4 linked regions of the Homo sapiens genome follow. The protein of the gene in region 1 interacts with the protein of each later gene in a pairwise test. Each region holds a gene or a part of one and is shown on either strand. Other genes may lie near its edges.

What was found.
Region 2: the proteins of CCDC32 (region 1) and BDNF interact in binary tests that used the Homo sapiens proteins (3 or more experiments, as listed by UniProt).
Region 3: the proteins of CCDC32 (region 1) and ANXA2 interact in a two-hybrid assay, tested with the Homo sapiens proteins (one study listed by BioGRID).
Region 4: the proteins of CCDC32 (region 1) and GTPBP3 interact in binary tests that used the Homo sapiens proteins (3 or more experiments, as listed by UniProt).

The regions. Positions count from the first base shown.
Region 1 is NC_000015.10:40,557,570-40,563,049, forward strand, and holds part of CCDC32 (coiled-coil domain-containing protein 32), read right to left. Parts: intron 5,459-5,480; 5' UTR 5,447-5,458; coding exon 5,203-5,446; intron 1-5,202. UniProt on the Homo sapiens protein: Regulates clathrin-mediated endocytsois of cargos such as transferrin probably through the association and modulation of adaptor protein complex 2 (AP-2). Has a role in ciliogenesis. Required for proper cephalic and left/right axis development.
Region 2 is NC_000011.10:27,691,976-27,697,455, forward strand, and holds part of BDNF (neurotrophic factor BDNF precursor form isoform a preproprotein), read right to left. Parts: intron 1-5,480. UniProt on the Homo sapiens protein: Important signaling molecule that activates signaling cascades downstream of NTRK2. During development, promotes the survival and differentiation of selected neuronal populations of the peripheral and central nervous systems.
Region 3 is NC_000015.10:60,358,762-60,364,241, forward strand, and holds part of ANXA2 (annexin A2), read right to left. Parts: intron 2,294-5,480; coding exon 2,180-2,293; intron 1-2,179. UniProt on the Homo sapiens protein: Calcium-regulated membrane-binding protein whose affinity for calcium is greatly enhanced by anionic phospholipids. It binds two calcium ions with high affinity. May be involved in heat-stress response.
Region 4 is NC_000019.10:17,339,939-17,343,231, forward strand, and holds the end of GTPBP3 (5-taurinomethyluridine-[tRNA] synthase subunit GTPB3, mitochondrial), read left to right. Parts: intron 1-1,105; coding exon 1,106-1,384; intron 1,385-1,539; coding exon 1,540-1,765; 3' UTR 1,766-2,793; downstream 2,794-3,293. UniProt on the Homo sapiens protein: GTPase component of the GTPBP3-MTO1 complex that catalyzes the 5-taurinomethyluridine (taum(5)U) modification at the 34th wobble position (U34) of mitochondrial tRNAs (mt-tRNAs), which plays a role in mt-tRNA decoding and mitochondrial translation.

The sequences.
Region 1 (5,480 bases):
GCATTGTATCAAATAAATGTTTAACCCGAGAAAAGGGAAAAGCCATAGGTTCTCATAAATAAGTCAATGGCATGTTTTCTTTGAAATCACGTAAGCCCAGCAGGTATCTCTCTAAGGAATGCTTGTTTTCCCTGGTTTGACATGTGTATACTACTGTCTTTTTTCAACTCCTTGAAAATAATCTCTCTGAGGAGTAAGTGGTTTTTTCTTTTTGTTACAGTAACATGAAGTGGTTTCCAAATCTCATGAGAAAGAATTAGAGAAAATGATGAAAGATCCAACGGTTCATTAGATATTAAAATTGACTTGATGAGAACTCAATAAGAGACCTTTAAAATCTCTATGTGTGATTAAATTCTTAATAAAAAGAATCTCCCAACATTTTTTAAAGTTGCTCAACTTGTGGCCTAGATGTTGGAGTCTAATAAAAACAAATGTCTTCTAATCCCATGACAGTGCTCCATATGGCTTCTTGATGATAGAGGTTAAATTACTCTTGTTTGCATTTTAACTCTAATTGTTTAACAGATTTCCCCTTTCGAAGAATACAAGAAAGGACATCACCATTTACCGTCTGCCTTAATTTAGTTTGCCTTCAACTATAAGTACATAGGTTAATGATGGCATGGTGGGGTGGTGAACATCAAGCTTAGAACCAATAGAAACTATGATTTGCAGTTCTGTTTTCATTTCTAAAAAAGTCACATCAGCTAACACCCACTGATCAAAACAAATACCTTTTGTTCCTGTTATTACCACCATGAGCTCACCCATGTAAAAAAAACCTGCAGTTGATAAATGTTAAATATTTGCAGGGTTTGTTTTCTCCTTGAGGATATAAAAAGGGTTATCCATAGCATACATTTAAGTTTTTAATTATTGCTGTTATCAGTGGATTCTCTTTGATATAGGTTATTTAACAATAAAAACAATCTTCATATTGTCTGGCCTCAGTTGTCAAAGTGGAAGGTACTCTTTTGGGCCGGAAAAGGTCTTCCTCTCTCTAAGTATGCTGAGTCCCTGGTCAGGTGTGATTTCAATAGGGCAAGCAGAAACAGGCACTAACACGTCCCTTCTGCCGCTGTCTCCCAGTCCATGCCATAGGCAACAGAAATGACTCTTATTTTCTTCAGAGATGAAAACTTCTTAACTGACTTTAGAGAAGATCATTAACTTTCCAAGCCAGTCTTCACTAATCAAAATCATCACTGTCTTCATTACACTTTTTCTTTCTTTCTTTTTTTTTTTGAGACGGAGTCTCGCTCTGTCACCCAGGCTGGAGTGCAGTGGCACGATCTCACTCAGCTCACTGCAAGCTCCGCCTCCTGGGTTCAAGCGATTCTCCTGCCTCAGCCTCCCAAGTAGCTGAGATTACAGGCGCACACCATCACACGTGGCTAATTTTTGTATTTTTAGTAGAAACAGGATTTTGTCATGTTGGCCAGGATGGTCTTGAACTCCTGACCTCATGTGATCTGCCTGCCTCGGCCTCCCAAATTGCTCTCTCTCTTTCTCTTCCTTCCTCTCTCTCTTTCTCAACAAGGTCTTGCTCTGTCACCCAGGCTGGAGTGCAGTGGCATGATCACAGCTCACTGTAACCTTGAACAACTGCTAGGCTCAAGCAATCCTCCCACCTCAGCCCCCTGGTAGCTGAGATTACAGGCATCTACCACTTCAGGCTAATTTTTAAAAATGTATTTGTAAAGACAGTCTCACTATGTTGCCCAGGCTGGTCTCAAACTCTTGGCCTACACGTGACCCTCCCACATCGGCCTCTCAGAGCGCTGGGATTATAGGTGTGAGCCACCATGCCTGACTTTCATGAAAGTTTCTTAGAAGCCCTTGTCATACAGCACCAACAAGCCAAGGGATCTCGTTCTATAGCTTTATCCAATTGTTGCCTCTTCTCCTTATCATCATTAAACAGATGCTTTGGCTACCACATGCAGAATTTTCATCCCCTAGGCCATGGCTGCAAGCATTGCTATCCTATCTTTGGTGGCTTCCTGGCAAATTTCACATTACTCCCTATCTTTCTATCACTCCACCTATGTTTTTCTCATATCTTTTTCCTCCAGTACATCATTAACAAAATCCCTTTTGTTTTTGCAAGATATTTCTTAGCTATCATGCAAGCTCTCTTCTGACTCTTCTTTCTGTCTTTCCTCAGAAGCTCCTTCTACCTGAATTGCCTTTCCTTCCTCAAAAAATTATTCCCAGGTTTGTAGCTGATCTTCGACAAAGCATATAACAACACAAATTGGGGAAAGGACATCCTATGTAACAAATGGTTCTGGGAAAACTGGCTAGCCACCTGTAGAAGAATAAAACTAGATCCCTATCTCTCACCTTATACAAAAATCAACTCAAGATGGATATAAGACTTGAAATCTTCAAAATTCTAAAAGAAAACCTAGGAAAAACTCTTCCAGACATTGGCCTAGGCAATTTTTATTTTGAGATGGAGTCTCGCTCTGTTGCCCAGGCTAGAGTGCAGTGGTGCGATTTCAGCTCACTGCAACCTCTGCCTCCTGGGTTCAAGCGATTCTCCTGTCTCAGCCTCCCGAGTAGCTGGGACTATAGGTGTGCGCCACCACGCCCAGCTAATTTGTGTATTTTTATTAGAGACAGGGTTTCACCATGTTGGCCAGGATGGTCTCGATCTCTTGACCTTGTGATCTGCCTGCCTCGGTCTCCCAAAGTGCTGGGATTACAGGCGTGAGCCACCGTGCCCGGCCTAGGCAAAAAATTTATGACTAAGATCCCAAAAGTAAATGCAACAATAACAAAAATAAATAAATCGGATCTAATTAAACTAAAAACTTCCGTACAGCAAAAGAAATAATCAGAGTAAACAGACAACCCATGGAATGGGAGAAAGTATTTGCAAACTATGTATCTAACAAAGGACTAATATCCAGAATCTACAAGGTGCTCAAACAAATCAGAAAGAAAAAAACAATCCCATCAAAAAGTGGGCAAATGACATGAATAGACATTTCTCAATGGGATTTGAGAAGATATACAAATGGCTAACAAACATATGAAAAAATGCTCAAAATCACTAATCATCAGGGAAATGCAAGTCAAAATGGTGAGCTACCACCTCACCCCAGCCAGAATGGCCACTATTAAAAAGTCAAAAGACAATAGATGTTGGCACGGATGTGGTAAAAAGAGAATCCTTATACACTGCTGATGGGAATGTAAATCAGTACAACCTCTATGGAAAACATATGGAGATTTCTCAAAGAACTAAGAGTAAATCTACCATTTGATCCAGCAATCCCACTACGAGGTGTTTACCCAAAGGAAAAGAAGTCGTTATATCAAAAAGATACCTGCACGCATGTTTCATAATTCATAATTGCAAAGATATGGAACCAACCTAAGTGCCCATCGAGCAATGAGTAGATAAAGAAAATATGGAATATATACACCATAGAACACTACTCAGCCATAAGAAATAATAAAATAATGTCTTCTGCAGCAACTTAGATGGAGCTGGAGGCCATTATCCTCTAAGTGAAGTAACTCAGGAATGGAAAACAAAATGCCATACGTTCTCACTTATAAGTGGGAGCTAAGCTATGGGTACACAAAGGTATACAAAGTGGTATATTGGCCGGGCACGGTGGCTCACACCTGTAATCCCAGCACTCTGGGAGGCCGAGGTGGGTGGATCACGAAGTCAGGAGTTCGAGACCACTCTGACCAACATGGTGAAACTCTCTATCTACTGAAAATACAAAAATGAGCCAGGCGTGGTGGTGGGCGACTGTAATCCCAGCTACTCAGGAGGCTGAGGCAGCAGAATTGCTTGAACCCGTGAGGCGGAGGTTGCAGTGAGTCGAGATCGTGCCACTGCATTCCAGCCTGGGCAACAGAATGAGACTCCGTCTCAAAAAAAAAAAACAAAACAACAACCAAAAAAAAAACAAAACACAAAGTGGTATACTGGACTTTGGAGATTCAGAAGTGGGGAGGTTTGGAGAGGGGTGAGGGATAAAAAACTACACATTGGGTACAATGTCCACTACTTGGGTGATGGGTGCACTAAAATCTCAGACTTCACCACTATACAATTAATCCATGTAGCCAAAAACCGCTTGTACACCAAAAGCTATTGAAATAAAAAAATTAGGGCCAAGCGCGGTGGCACACGCCTGTAATCCCAGCACTTCAGGAGGCCAAGGTAAGCCTTATTCCCAGGTTTGGCTTTGTGAAACATGGATGAATCTCATGGTTGTTCCACAATAAAAGGATATTACAATTCTAAAGACTGCCCCTCACCGCCCTAGACTGATATTTCTTTTTCCCCTAGCATGGGACAATTTGAATCTCTTTCCTGTGTTTGGAATCTCTCTAGATACTTATACTATGGCCGCAGGACAGGGTACTGAAAATGTGTTCAGGAAATATTTTTAAAATAAAATGGCTAACAAGAGGCAGAATGAATCTTATGTCAATATGCTCCCATTCTCAACAATCAATCTATTTATGTAAGTTTTTCAAACTCCAGCATCAGAAATCCACATGTAGCCCTGGGGCCATCACATTTTCTTGCAGGATGGCATAAGGTTTAACACTTTTGAGTTATTTGAATATACGGGCAACCAACAGTAGGCAAGAGGGTTCTACAGAATGCCAAGAAATCAAACACAGAATTTAGATGAACTGGGCAGAGGCAGGAAGTGACAAAAACTGTTTTAAGAGCTGTTCGGGTAGTCACGGCGGCTCATGCCTGTAATCCCAGCACTTTGGGATGCCGAGGCAGGTGGATCACCTGAGGTCAGGCATTCGAGACCAGCCTAGCCAACATGGTGAAATGAAACCCCATCTCTACTAAAAATACAAAAAATTAGCCGGGCATTGTGCCAGGCGCCTGTAATCCCAGCTACTCGGTAGGCTGAGGCAGGAAAATCGCTTGAACCCGGGAGGTGGAGGTTGCCATGAGCTAAGATCACGCCACTGCACTCCAGCCTGGGCAACAAGAGTGAAAGTCTCAAAAAATTAAAAATAAAAATAAAAAAAGATCTGTTCAAGGAAAAGGGGGCTGCTTCCCAACAGCCGGCTTGAAACATCCCTTGGAATTATATCTGACAGATACGTGTGACAGGAATAACAACAACACAAAAGAATAGGAAACCAAGTTTGATGTAACAGAACTTCAATATGCTTCCCTAGAGCCGTCAAACTTACCTAGAGATGCTAAATACACTTCTGAATCCTGCAAGGGAGCCCAAGGCTTTACAGCTGGCTGGACAGCAAAGTCAGCCACCTCCCTCTGGCCTTCACCTTCAGGGCAAGAATCCACAAAGGAGTCTGAGAATGCATTGTTGGCACCATCTTCTTGTTCAGGATTTGGCAGACAGGAACAAATTTCAGCCCAGAGATCCTGGCCAGATCTTGTGGCTGTAGAGTCAGCGCTCTCAAACATTTTCATTTGGAATCTGAGCTATAAAACAGAAGCTCAAGTG
Region 2 (5,480 bases), on another chromosome or scaffold:
ACCTGAATTTGATAAGAACTTTTTTTTCCAGACATTCTGTTCTGTCTAACCCAAAGGAAAAATAGCCAATTTTGAGAATCTGTATACAAATAAGGAAAAGTAAAATACAGCGCTTTGCAAAGAAATGGGAGGGATTTCTGATACTCAATTCATGATGCTAAACACTTCAAGTAGATGATTCAAAGGCAGAAATATATAACTGTTCTCATTAGGATTGTTTATGGACTATAAATAAGGAGCAGACTTATGGCCAATGCATTAGAAAAAAACAAGTACAAAGGCACTTCAGAAAATACCTTACTCCAACCTCCCATTTTAGTGTCATTTCTAAAAGGGTTTCATTTCAGCCTTCCTACCTTTCTTCCTTCCTTCCCTTCCTTCCCTCCAACGGGGTCTCACTCTGTCACCCAGGCTGAAGAGCAGTGGGACAATCACGGCTCACTGCAGCCCCAACCTCCTGGGCTCAAACGATCCTACTGCCTCAGCCTCCCAAGTAGCTGGGACTACAAGTGCCTGTCACCAGGCTTGGATAATTTTTTTTGTCTTTTGTAAAGATGGGGTCTTGCTATGTTGTCCAGACTCGTAATGATCTCCTGGGCTCAAGTGATCCTCCCACCTCAGCCTCCCAGAGTGCTGGGATTACAGGCATGAGCCACCACACCAGACCTCTTTTTTCTTTATTATATATTCCTCTAATAAAGTGCTCTGTATGCAGTGAGCATTCAATATTTGCTAAATTAAATTAATGGAAAGTTTTCTAACTACCATGTAGAGTATCTAAATTTACATCATTGGTTCTAGAACTGCTGTCTGAAGCAACACAAATTACACTTATGACAGTTCGTCAAATCTTTGAAGCCCATCCTCAAAATAAGGATGTCAAAAATACATCACACATGTTGACACTCTAATCTCCCAGCCACAGTAGGCATTAGCAATCTGAATGTTATTTTTACTAATCCTTCACAGTTTTAGAATTCTTCTCAACCCAACATTCAAAAACCACTTGCCATTCCAGCCTAAGTTTTCTTGTCCCTAAGTCATGCATTCCAAGTCCCCTCAACCATTGCTCACATGCAATGCTTTCAAATTCCCTATGCATCCTGGTCACAGTGATTTGAATGTACACTAATTTATCGATGATGTACCTAAAACAACTTATTTCATTTCCTTGAACTGATGATAATATTCTAGATACAGTCTATTTAAAAAGTGAAGAATTATTAGCTTCTCCATTTCAGTATTATATTTCTAGCAGTGCAGCCCAAAATTTCAGTAGCTATGATAACAGCCTCTTGTCACACCACTGGCTTATACTGAACTTGCAGTTAATTTAAAACATTCAAGCTTCCTTTCTACAATCTGCTGATAAGTCATCCCCTAAAACCGTGCCCGCAACTCTCTATTCTCTCCTAAATTGATTTTTTTGTACTTAATCATAGTATTTTACATTTAAGTAAATGTAAATGATCCAGATTCTATCATTCAACAGAATGTCTGCAATATCTGCTGGCTTTATGTTTCATATGATAAGCATATCGTCTGTGCCTTCAGACACATTATCAGCCAACATGTCGGTGCTGGATGTATTTTCCCAATGTTGCATAAGAGGAATACCTTCGAGAGTTTGGCCTAGGAATGTGGCCTGGGACTCCGCCAAGCATCTCTCTCCAGCAAAATGACTGCAAATTTCTCGACCTTCAGATTCTACATGATGTAAAAGAAGTTTGTCTGTGTTTAAAAACACATTCAAGAAATAAGTGAACATGTGAAAAGACAGAAAAACTTGTTTTAATTTGGGCATAGTTTCAGTTTTCAAAGGCACATGAAGGCAGAAAGAAAGAATCACAAAATGGAACTACTGATGATAGCAACTCCAAAACCAAGACTGATTAGACTAAATCCCATGTGGCAAAAATTTTATTTAGTAAGTTTCCTTCTCCCTCTCTCCCTTTAGATATATGTGCATACACACACACGCACCTTTATTTTAGTAATTTTTTTTTTCTGAAAAAGAAAGTTTTCTGCACCTGATTGCTTCCATGAATAACACAAAGCACAAACAATATGACTTTCTTTGGTTATCATGCAATTTTTTCTCTGCTTACCAGAAATTGGCACAAATTTAAGATATACTATATTCTACTCCCTGAAGCACAGTCGCTGGCATCTCCACTGGCATTTAAAAATTTGAAGACATTTAAAAGAAAATCCACAAGCTTATAGTTGCTGTCTAAATCAACTTTAACATTTCATATATTCACAATTTCATAAGTGAATCAAATTACACATAAGAAATTATAGAACTAAGCCAACTAAATGACTTTTATAATAGGTACTGGGGAAAAATATTATTAAACCTTTTCCTCCAATTTCTGCCTTTCTTCCAGCAAGACAAACCATTTTCATGAAGTTTCTGTCTACATCACTAGTGATAATCTGAAGCAGCCATTAATCAATCTATTAGTGCATTCAGCAACATTTATCAAAGTGCCTCCCCAGAACTGTTTTGGATGCTGTTGTGGGCGCATGCAAAAATGAACTAAATATAGATTTTTGTCATCCAAGAATTTTAAGTCAATTTGTAATTATTGGTTCCTGGTTCCATAACTTTTTTTTTTTTTTTTTTTGGTGCTGGCTCAGATGTATACCTTCATCTATTCTAAGGTTAAGGCAATCCTTATAATTTTCTTCCTTTTTCTTGTTTGTTTGTTTTTTGTGTGTGTGTTTAAAATCTTGCTTATATTTGACTTTATTTTATTCTCACATCTTCTGAGTACATTAAAGTTAAAGGTAGATCATAAATCGAAAACATTCTTAAAGGTCTCTCTACTCAAATTATTTGGTGTTATTGTATCTCAGAAAGTATAATGAATTGCCTGTAGCAAATAAATAAAATCAGAACCTTTATACTCAATGGTTCGGTTTGGTACATATCCATGAAAATAATAAATGTTAAAAAGGATGCTAGCCGTTGATTCCTGGCATGCTATTCTACATTTGGCTACATTACAACGTTAAAAGGATTTAGTGCATATATCAAATTGTGGATCTGCTTGTTTTAAAATTTCATCTGTAATTCCACATGCAACCCCCACCCCCATACACACTCACAAGATCTGAATATGGTAACAAGGAAATCCTAGTAACTGTAGCGTTGGAAAAATGGTTCATATGGAAATAAGCCATTTGGCTAGTAAAGCTGGTGATTTTGTTCTCTAGGTGGCACTATTACTTCAATTTTTGGTGAGTTGCTTAAATTACTTGGAACTGCCCGTTTATTTTCTTTGAATTCCCATTTTATAAATTTTAATTTTATACAAGCTAGTTGTAATTAAACGACAGGTTGCCTTCTAGGTTTTATTTCAGTAAGTCAATTTGAAGTTCAGTGATTTTTTATCATATAATTTTATGTTTCCTTACTATACTGTCTTAGTTTTAAGAAATCCTCCCTTGCCTGACCTCCTCTCTCCAAAAATGCAGAGGCATGTCAAAAACACAGAGGGTCGTCATAAAGTTTCCGTCAGACCAAAGGAACCAAGATGAAAGCATGTTTAAGAGCTACTAGGTTCTGGGAGATTTCAAAATCAGGACATTACTACCATGACAACCAATGAAAAGTTCTTTCAAGTGAACCTTTGGGGAAAACTATATAACGTTCCTTACTCTCTAGGCTCTCTGGAAATAAACTTTTACTTTATTATGGCTGTCACTAAAGCTTGTAAATTTACTTTGCTTCCTTCCAATCGTTCTCCTGTCCCACACTCAGCCCCCTAACTCACTTAATGCAACCCATCCTCAAACATCAATCTATAAATGAGACATCAGGGCAATGAGCCACTTCTTAGCATCTAGTATATTTGATAAGATTTGTCTCATCAAGAGGATAAGTGCCCTAGAGCTTCTACTTGAACTTAAATACTTAATTTAAATGAAAGCTTCCACACTTATCTGACCAGATACTCAAATTTTTCTACAGAAAAGAGAATACCTTCCTGTTCCACTTAAAGAACACACACATTTACCACTCCCCCTCCTCTCCCCTGCAAAAGGTTTTCAATGTCAGTACATTAGTGAGCTCCATTTTGCATCTGCCATCAATAATGATTCCATATAGTCAATAATTGGGTTCATGACCTTTCTAAATCTTTACAGTGTAAATATTCTGGAAATCCAGTGAGGCACTTAAGTATAAAATTATTTAGGATTAAATAATTCTATGCCTTAAGTAGAAGTTTAAGAGGACGTTTAGGACACACATGACTAAGCCTACAAATACCAAAGCCACTCTATGTTTCCTAGGTTTAAATACCACATGCAAATAACATACGGATTTCATTTGCCAGCATCATTTATTGCCTAACATTACTCCATACTAAACAGAGTAAATGGATGCAGAGTGTAACCAGTAAGTTTGCTCATTCACTTTTGAAGCTCATCTGTGCATGTTATTCATCCTAATAAAGAAAATTTATCACAACACAACTTGATGCGATTCTTGTTCAAATGATTTCCTCTTCCATTGAACAACAGCCAGCACTTAAAACCTAGAATTCCACAGAATTCTCTCCTCGATTCCTCTTTAAAATGCAATTCACAGTTTGAGATCACAGAGCCTGCCAGTGGCTGAATGGCTGCACTAGATGGCTGAGAGTCCTTCAATTAAGCAACAATTTTGCAATTAGTGGAAACTGAGTGCTCTATAACAATTGTTTGAAAACAAGTTGAGACAAGTTAGCAATTACCCTATAAAAGGGACATATTCACTTTTGTTGGATAGGCGAGACCCCTCACACAAATTGAACTCTTCCACACAGGGAGATGCAAGTTGAAAATTAATGTTTTAATCACTAAAATCAAATCCATATTATGGGCACCTGAAATGGGAGTGCCTTTCTTCTCAAAAGATATTCAGAGTTTAGCTATCATCCACTCTCTATGCTGTCTGTTTTTATTCAGGAAGTCTGAAATTGTTCTTCTGTACTCCGGGATTAATTTCCTACATCTCAAAATGTTAATAAACTACTTGAACATGACCTTTCCATTCTGTAAATTTCCTTAAGAGTAAGTCTACGATTGAGACCCAAAGCTGCTGGCTGTGTTATATTTCACAGTTCACAGTTCTCTCTCTCTCTCTCTCCCCCTCTACACACACGCGCACGTGCACGCACACACACACACACACACACAGAGAGAGAGAGAGAGAGAGAGAGAGAGAGAGCACCCCAGGTTTTAGAAGATGAATGTAAAAAGAATGTAAACAAGTTCTCTGCTATACTATCAGGTGGGCGTGCCCAGCTCACTGTGCGTGCTGAACTACAAACCAGTGCTATTCATATAAGAAATGATATCAATCATCTACATTTTGACTATTGAAAAGCTGGGACTCTTAAAGATTCCAGGAAAAAGGGAATAGCTTACATTTTCATGGCGCCCCTTTTAAACAGGAAACCCACGGACTTTGAGCCAGGATTTTAGAA
Region 3 (5,480 bases), about 20 Mb from region 1:
GGCAGTTGTTCAATCTCAAGGATGATAGAAATATAGTCTAAAAATAACACACAGTGGGAGAAATGTTATATCCTGACATTGTAGAATTGCAAGACAGGCAGAATAATGTAAGATGTGTTTCCTTCCATCACTGATATACCAGTGGTAATATCTGAGAATTCCAATAGTGTTTTTATGTCTACATTCAAAGGTGACCTTGGCAATTTCCAAAGCCCGGCCCAAACTCTCCACAGACTGTCCACAATTCCTATCACAAGGGCAAATTCTACTGTAACATATGGCAGATACTGCCACCGGTACTGCCAGAAGTCAAAACAGATTTTTTTTTAAGCATAGTTCAGTTAATGTCACTTCAAGCTTTATGGATTTTGGACGGGTATTCAACTGTGATAGCTAATGGAAGAGCTGGCACAGGGTCAAAGCTTCAGCAGTTAAAGCACCTTCCATTGGGCCCAATTACATAGATTACAACAGTGACTGACAGCTCAAAAAGGTCTGTTTCAAGTCCCTAATACCTAGTAATAGATACCAGTAAAGCCACTCGAATCACAACTAAATAGATTCTTGATGAAAATAAGACAAACTGATCTGAAGTGTTGATGGTCAGAAGAAACCTAGGAGAGGCTGACTCATCCCTGCCTCCAAAGGTCCACAGACTCGGTTTTCAGGAGCGCTATTTTTATCAACCAGGATCATGAAATGTTGTCGACATTTTATCATTCTTAATGACGTCTTTTCTGCAGTACAGTCTACTTAGGAAACTCAGACAAGTCCGCTAAAATAAACTGAGCACAGCTTGGGCTAAGCTGAAGAACTAAAGGAAGAAAGAGACTTAACAACAAATCTTACAGCAGCCCTGAGCTATCAAATTCCAGGCTTTGGAGATGCCCAGTGTCCGAAGCACCCTCACTCTTGTGTTCTCTGGGAAAAGGATGACAACTGAACTGTGACATTAGCTCTGGTGACAGGCTTACAGCTCAGACTGTTCATAATTCAGGAACAGTGGCATCAGAGAAAACAGACTCGGAATAAAAAATCAAGACCAATGGTTTCCCTCATCTACAGCGCAGACTTTACCCATGTATATCAGCAGAGGGCAGTGTCGGACTGTTCAAATGCTGCAGACCCACACTAAGAAAAGGGTCCAAATGTGTTGCAGTACAACATACATTAATGTGTGTGCATCTATTGCATTTATATAAAACTTGATGTTGGCCAGGCGCGGTGGCTCACGCCTGTAATCCTAGCACTTTGGGAGGCCAAGGTGGGCAGATCACCTGAGGTCGGGAGTTTGAGACCAGCCTGACCAACATGGAGAAATCCCGTCTCTACTAAAAATACAAAATTAGCTGGGCGTAGTGGCGCATGCCTGTAATCCCAGCTACTCGGGATGCTGAGGCAGGAGAATCTCTTGAACCCGGGAGGCAGAGGTTGCAGTGAACTGAGATCGCGCCATTGCACTCCAGCCTGGGCAACAAGAGCGAAATCCATCTCAAAAAACAAAACAAAACAAAACAAAAAACTTGATATTTTAAGTATGCACAAAGTTCAGGAGGTTTCCAATCTACAGTTTTTACTTAATTTAACCTAAAATTCCAGGTTCAAAAGAACTTTACAAAAGAAAAACATAAAAGATAACGTGCATTGAGACTTCACAGTTACTTTCTCACAGGTACGATTCAGGTACGATTCTTCATCCAGAATTACCCCTTATATGCACTATGATGTTCTGATTCTGCCTGAATTTGAAACAAATGGTACTGACAGAGAGAGTATGGGAGGAAGAAACACCCACGAAAGGATGGGCAGAATTTGCAAGCTTCACTTAACAAAAGCTATGAGTTTTTTTTTCTTGCCTTAATATCACAACATATCTTTTTAAAGGAGGAAGTGTAATCAAGGAAGTAGTTTTCCCAAATGGTATTCCAATTGCCCAGGTGCTGAGTAGTAGCAGCTGGTAACTGACTTCTCAGCATCATGAAATTTCTTTACAGTCTTAAAACAAGTAATTGAAATATTTTTGGTACAAATCCTGAGACATATAACTTCAGTTCATTTTTAAAAAATGGTTCCAAATGAGAATTCAACAAAACTGAAAATCACCAAATTACACTCAGAAAGCTGTAATTCACAAAATTAATAGCAGATTTGACAGAGATGACATCTCACATGCATTTACCTTCATGGAAGCTTTTAGCTCAGAAGCGTCATACTGAGCAGGTGTCTTCAATAGGCCCAAAATCACCGTCTCCAGGTGGCCAGATAAGGCTGACTTCAGTGCTGATGCAAGTTCCTTCAAGATAACAGGCAATCATAAGGAAAATATTTATTTTACTTTAAAACTAGTGAGTAAAACAAAAGTAAGAGGGATCTTTTTGTGAAGCAGGTTGTGAGTCTTTGACCACTCCGGAGTCTTGGGTCAAACGCCCTCAACTGCATTCCCTTCAACAGACCCACATCTCAGAAACATAAACATCAGGCTTTGCTTCAACGAAATTCCTTAAAATCCAAGTTAATTTTGCCGTCTTCCCCGGTCAATAAAAGGAAACTGGAGTCGTATGTGATTCCTAAGAAAGCTGTGAGAGTGCAGGCACTTTGCAATATGCTTGAAAGCAGTAACACTCCGTGGAAGGCAGGACGCTTTCGGAGATCAAGGCCCCTGCTAAGAAGGAGATGTTTGAGCAGACAGCCTCCTGGCAAGCAGATCTTGTGGCCTCCCGATATACTGTAAAAGACGTGGGGGCAGCCATTCCAGCGGCAGCTCCTCAAAGTCACCAGAAGGAACCAGAGGCCGCAACACAGTTGGAAGTGAGGTCATGAAACTTTCCTATGCAAAACACTTCATCTAATACTGAGAAAATATCTCCTTGTCCACACCAAACTCGGACGGTGTTTAATGGAAGTGATAGGAAACTAACACCCCCGAACTGGCCCCCTTGAATTCCCTGCTGCATGTAATTTCTTAAGGGTTGGATCCACTGTCACCATGAACACAAAAATTTGTCAGAGGTCTGGTCAGCACCCATGTATGTAGACAGACACCCCAACTCAATGTGTCTTTTAGCGATGCTTCCTCGAGCTAAACTTCCTACAAATCATGGCTGATGACTGAAGCCTCCTACTGAAATAATGTTCTTCTTTTCGCTTTTTTTTTTTTCTTCTCTCTCTTCTTTCTTTCCTTGCTTTCTAAGAGCACCTGTGGCATCTACAAAGCTTAGCCCCTACAGGTACTTGCAGGCTACGAGAGGTGATTTGCAGCATGCTTCAGAGACAACCATGCTGAATCATTCGTAGATGTCAAAAGTGTTAGAACTGACATGGATCTTAGAAGCCACCTGGCTTTCACCACCCATTTTCTCCTGCTTCCCAATGTCCCGGGAACACACGGCACTTAGGAGGGGACTGTAAAAGCAGTAGCTCCCAATTATAACACCAGTCTCCCAGTTTGGAACTTTGAGGTTAGGTAACTCCAAACTTAGCCTACCCTTGACACTCCCCTCTACCCATTCTCTATTCAAACCTCAAATAGCATTTGGGCACCTACTGACTTCTTCCACTTCTATTCTAAACTCCTTATGGGCGTTCAACTTCCTGTTTCTCACAATGTCCAGCACAGAGCTTTGCATTTAACAAAAACTAAACAAAAACTCCAGAAATGTATGATAAATCAAACATAACCCTTCCCTGTAAGGAGAAGCCTCGCATCTGGCGTCTGCTAGAACATGAAAGAGTCGTAAAAGCAGCTGTCTCTCCCAGCTCCTCTCCACTCTGCCAGCCGGGCCTAGGTTCTTCAAGCTCATCACCTGGGCAGCTGCAGCCCGTATCCCTAAAGAACTCTGCAGCACAAATCTTCCTTATTTCACAAATTTTCTTCTTTATTTCACAAACAGCCGATTGTTTCACTTGAAACTATCTCAAGTAGTTTACATATCTTTTATAAAAGATACATAATTCTCCTTGGCCTAAGGCTGAGAGTCAAGAATTAGTAGGATGATGAGCTGTCCCCAGCACACAGCAAAGCCTGTGAGATCTTGGGACCTCATCATAATTCTGGTAATATCTTCCCTCCTAGAGGGTATGTGGGAGCTTTGTTCTACATATATCTAATCTAAAACCAAGATCTAGGTTTTGGGTGTGGTGGCTTATGACTGTAATCCCAGCAGTTTGGGAGGCTGAGATGAATCATTTGAGTCCACATGGCAGAAGTTGCAGTAAGCCGAATCACACCACTGCAATCAAGCCTGGGTGACAGAGCAAGACCCTGTCACAAAAAAAAAAAAAAAAAAAAAAAAAAAAAGTTTCAGGCTTCTATGTGTGTGTGTACACACCCAAATGTATTCCAAGACCATACTCTGTGACAGCTGAAAGATCAAATTTTTTGCTTGCTATCCAGAGATGAGCCTTCTGCTCCACTGGGAACTTGGCTCTACCAGCTCACAGACCCCTTTGGGAAGCTGCAGAAATAAAACACTCCCCTCTATGCCTCACTACACAAGATTAATACACTTCTAGTGAAAGAAGAATTTTAATGCACTTGAGATGAAAGAAGCCAGATGCTTTCCTATTTATGTCCTTTCCAACCATTTAGAGTGCGGGGGATGGAAGTGTAGCAAGGCTTGACCTGCAACTCCCAGGACCCTGCTGGTCATGTCAATCCCAAGGGCAGAAATATCTCTTCTAGAATCCTTCCAGCTCACCTCCACTGTGGCTACAAGTGAAAGCCATAAGTCAAACGGGAGCTGCAGGAAGCCACACTTACTGCACTGTCCAAGAATAAATCAAAAGCTTTTAATAGCAAGAAGTTAAAAATAAAGCAGCACGTCCTTAAAAATAAAATTTCCTACAACTGACAAAATAAAGGACGAACACGCACTGGTTGTTTCTTAACCACTAGTGGACAAGCAAAGGGAAAAAGCACACAAAGACCCTTTAAATAGTAGGAGCATGGCATGTTGAAGATAGCTTTGCAGACCAAATGAACTAACAACTAAGCCCACTCGTTGCAAAAAGCTTAAGAATTCAAGTGTATATTTTTAAAATGAGAGGAGCTTGTTAGGATCAACACTCAGTGGAGGCTAGTATCCTAAAATTAAATTAGAAACATCTTATCAAGAACCAGCAGAAGTCATAAAGATGAAATGAGTTGCTACATGTACAAAACTGAGCACAGTGCCTGGCCCAAAGTAAGCACTCAATAAATGGTGCCTGTTGTTGTTATTGTTGTTGTTCCCTATTCCTAACTTTCTATTCCCAGAAGCTCTCCCTCCAGGTAGCCTGGGTTGGGGGAGGGTACTGTCCTTACACAGGAGCTCCCAAGCACTCTAAAGCGAGCGTGACCATCTGCGCTCTGCCTCCTCTCAGATCAACGGTGGCATGAGATTCTCACAGAAGCGCGAACCCTACTGTGAACTGCACACGCGAGGGATCTATGTTGTACACTCCTTATGAGAACCTAATGCCTGATGACCTGAGGTGCACGC
Region 4 (3,293 bases), on another chromosome or scaffold:
TAGAGATGAGGTTTCACTATGTTGGCCAGGTTGGTCTCTAACTCCTGAGCCTCGGCCTCCCAAAGTGTTGTGAGCCCACCGCACCTGGCCTGGTGTTTTGTTTTTGTTTTTGAGACGGAGTTTCGCTCTTGTTGCCCAGGCTGGAGTGTGCAGTGGTACAATCTCGGCTCACTGCAACCTCCGCCTCTCGGGTTCAAGTGATTCTTCTGCCTGGGCCTCCCGAGTAGCTGGGATTAGAGGCGCCCACCACAATGCCAGGCTAATTTTTTGTATTTTTAGTAGAGATGGGGGTTTCACCATGTTGGCCAGGCTGGTCTCGAACTCCTGATCTCAGGTGACCCGCCTGCCTCGGCCTCCCAAAGTGCTGGGATTACAGGCGTTAGCCACTGTGCCCGGCCAGTGATTTAGTTCTGATTAAGTCCTGCCCCCGGCCCTCCGGACATGTTTCTCATCCCTAAGCCCTCCGCCCAGCCCTCACGTTCTGCCCCGCCCTCTCGTGCTCTGTCCCGCCCTGGCACTCCGCTCTGCCCCTTGCGGTCTATCCCATCCCCTGTGCTCTGTCCACCCCCTACATTCTGCCCCACCCCTGGTGCTCTCTACCCCTTACCCTGTGGTGTGTCTGGTCCTTCTTGCTCTGCCCCGCCACTCATGGTCGCCCCACTCCAGTGCTGTACCCGGCCCCTTTTGCTCTGTCCCAGCCCCTGTGCTGTGCCCTGTCCCTCTTGCTCTGCTCTTCCCCCTGCACAGTGCTCTGCCCCTCTTGCTCTGCCCCGCCCTCCTGTGCTGTGCCCCGCCCCTCCTGCCCTGCCCTACTCACTGCACTGTGCCCAGCCCCTCCTGCTCTGCCCCGCTCCCGCACCGTGACCGCTCCTCTTGCTCTGCCCTTCCCCCTGCACTGTGCCCCGCCCCTCTTGCTCTGCCCCACCCCCTGTGCTCGGCTTGGGCCCCCAACATTCTGCCGGTCCCCTGGTACTCTACTCCTCCCTCCCGACCTCACGCTTCGCAGCTCCCCCAGTGCTCTGCCTGGCCCCTCTAACTGTCCCTCCACCCAGTGCCTTCAATTGCTCAACCTGGGATCCCCGCTCAGTTGACCTTGCTCCCGCAGGCTAGAGCAGGCTGACCTCATTCTGGCCATGCTGGATGCTTCTGACCTGGCCTCTCCCTCCAGTTGCAACTTCCTGGCCACCGTCGTAGCCTCTGTGGGAGCCCAGAGCCCCAGTGACAGCAGCCAGCGCCTCCTCCTGGTGCTGAACAAGTCGGACCTGCTGTCCCCGGAGGGCCCAGGTCCCGGTCCTGACCTGCCCCCGCACCTGCTGCTGTCCTGTCTGACGGGAGAGGGGCTGGACGGCCTCCTGGAGGCGCTGAGGAAGGAGCTAGCTGCAGTGTGAGCCCCCTCCCACTCCCAGCCTCCCCTGACCCACAGTTTAAGTGTGGGTCCCTCAACTTCAATTTCTGAACCTACAAAATGGGTACAACCATTTCCCCTTCAAGGGATGGTTGTAAAAGGTCGGGAGAGACCATGTCTCTTGTCTCTTCCAGGTGTGGGGACCCGTCCACAGATCCCCCGCTGCTGACCCGAGCAAGGCACCAGCACCACCTCCAGGGTTGCCTGGATGCCCTCGGCCACTACAAGCAGTCAAAAGACCTGGCCCTGGCGGCAGAGGCGCTGCGGGTGGCCCGGGGTCACCTGACCCGGCTCACAGGTGGAGGGGGTACCGAGGAGATCCTGGACATCATCTTCCAGGACTTCTGTGTGGGCAAGTGACGGGATCCAGGGAAGTCGCACCCAAGCTGCGTGGAGACCCAGGAGCCTCGGGGGATCTGGAAACAGTTTAGGCCAATTGGGATTCTCATTCGCCTGGGAAAGAACTTGATTCTCAAATAGTGAAGCAACACAGCTGAGAGGTAGTGAGATCCCTGCAGGGACTCCCTGGAGATTCAGGCCCTGGAATGGGGCTGAATGGAGGTCCCGTTCGACCCTTGATGCTGGGGCATCCGGGTTGGGATGGAGATAGGAGGATCTCAGTATATTTGTTTCGTAGTTTTTTATTTATTTTGCAAATACCAAAGGAATGTAAAAAAAACTCAGGTGATCTAGAAGTGTTTATTTTCTTCCCTTCCCTTCCCTTCCCTTTCCTTTTCCCTTTCCCTTTCCCCTTCCCCTTCCCCTTCCCCTTCCCCTACCCTTCCCTCCTCTGTCTATTGCCCAGGCTGGAGTGCAGTGGTGCGACCTTGGCTCACTGCAACCTCCATCTCCGGGGCTCAAGCGCTTCTCCTGCCTCAGCCTCCTGAGTAGCTGGGATTACAGGCATGTGCCAGCATGCCCGGCTAATTTTTTTCTTTTTTTGAGACAGAGTCTCGCTCTGTCACCCAGGCTGGAGTTCAGTGGTGCGACCTCGGCTTACTGCAACCTCCACCTCCCGGGTTCAAGTGATTCTCCTGCCTCAGCCTCTTGAGTAGCTGGGACTACAGGCGCACACCACCACGCCAGGCTAATTTTTGTATTTTTAGTAGAGACAAGGTTTCACCATGTTGACCAGGCTGGTCTTGAACTCCTTGACCTCAGGTAATCTGCCTACCTTGGCCTCCCAAAGTGCTGGGATCACAGGCGTGAGCTATCACACCTGGCCCCAGAAGTGTTTCAACATGGAAATTTTCCTTAGCCCTTCTGTGGTTGTCATGGCTTAATGTGTGTCTTTCCAGAACTTTGAATGTTTGCATACTTGTGGATGTACCTTTCAAATATGTTTGTCTTGTGTATCATATATAAATGGTATTGTGTTCATTGCTCTACAAATTGTCATTTCTTTTTAAAAAAAAAACAGAATTATGGAGATGGGGGGTCTCACTATGTTGCCCAGGCTGGTCTTGAGCTCTTGGACTCAAGCCATCCTGCTGTCTTGGCCTCCCAAAGTGCTGGGATTACAGGTGTGAGCCACGGTGCCTGGCCTCATTCCTTTTTTAGTCTTTAGTCTTCTTTTTTTTTTTTTTTTTTTTTGATGGGGTTTCACTGTGTTAGCCAGGCTGGTCTTGATCTCCTGACCTTGTGATCTGCCCACCTGTGGCCTCCCAAAGTGTGTGTGTGTGTGTGTGTGTGTGTGTGTGTGTGTGTGTGTGTGTGACAGAGTCTTGCTCTGTTGCCCAGACTGAAGTGCAGTGGTGTGATCTCAGCTCACTGCAGCCTCTGCCTCCTGAGCTCAAGCCATTCTCGTGCCTCAGCCTCCCGAGCAGCTGGGATCATAGGTGTACCCTACCACACCTGGCTAACTTTTGTATTTTTAGTAGAGATGGGT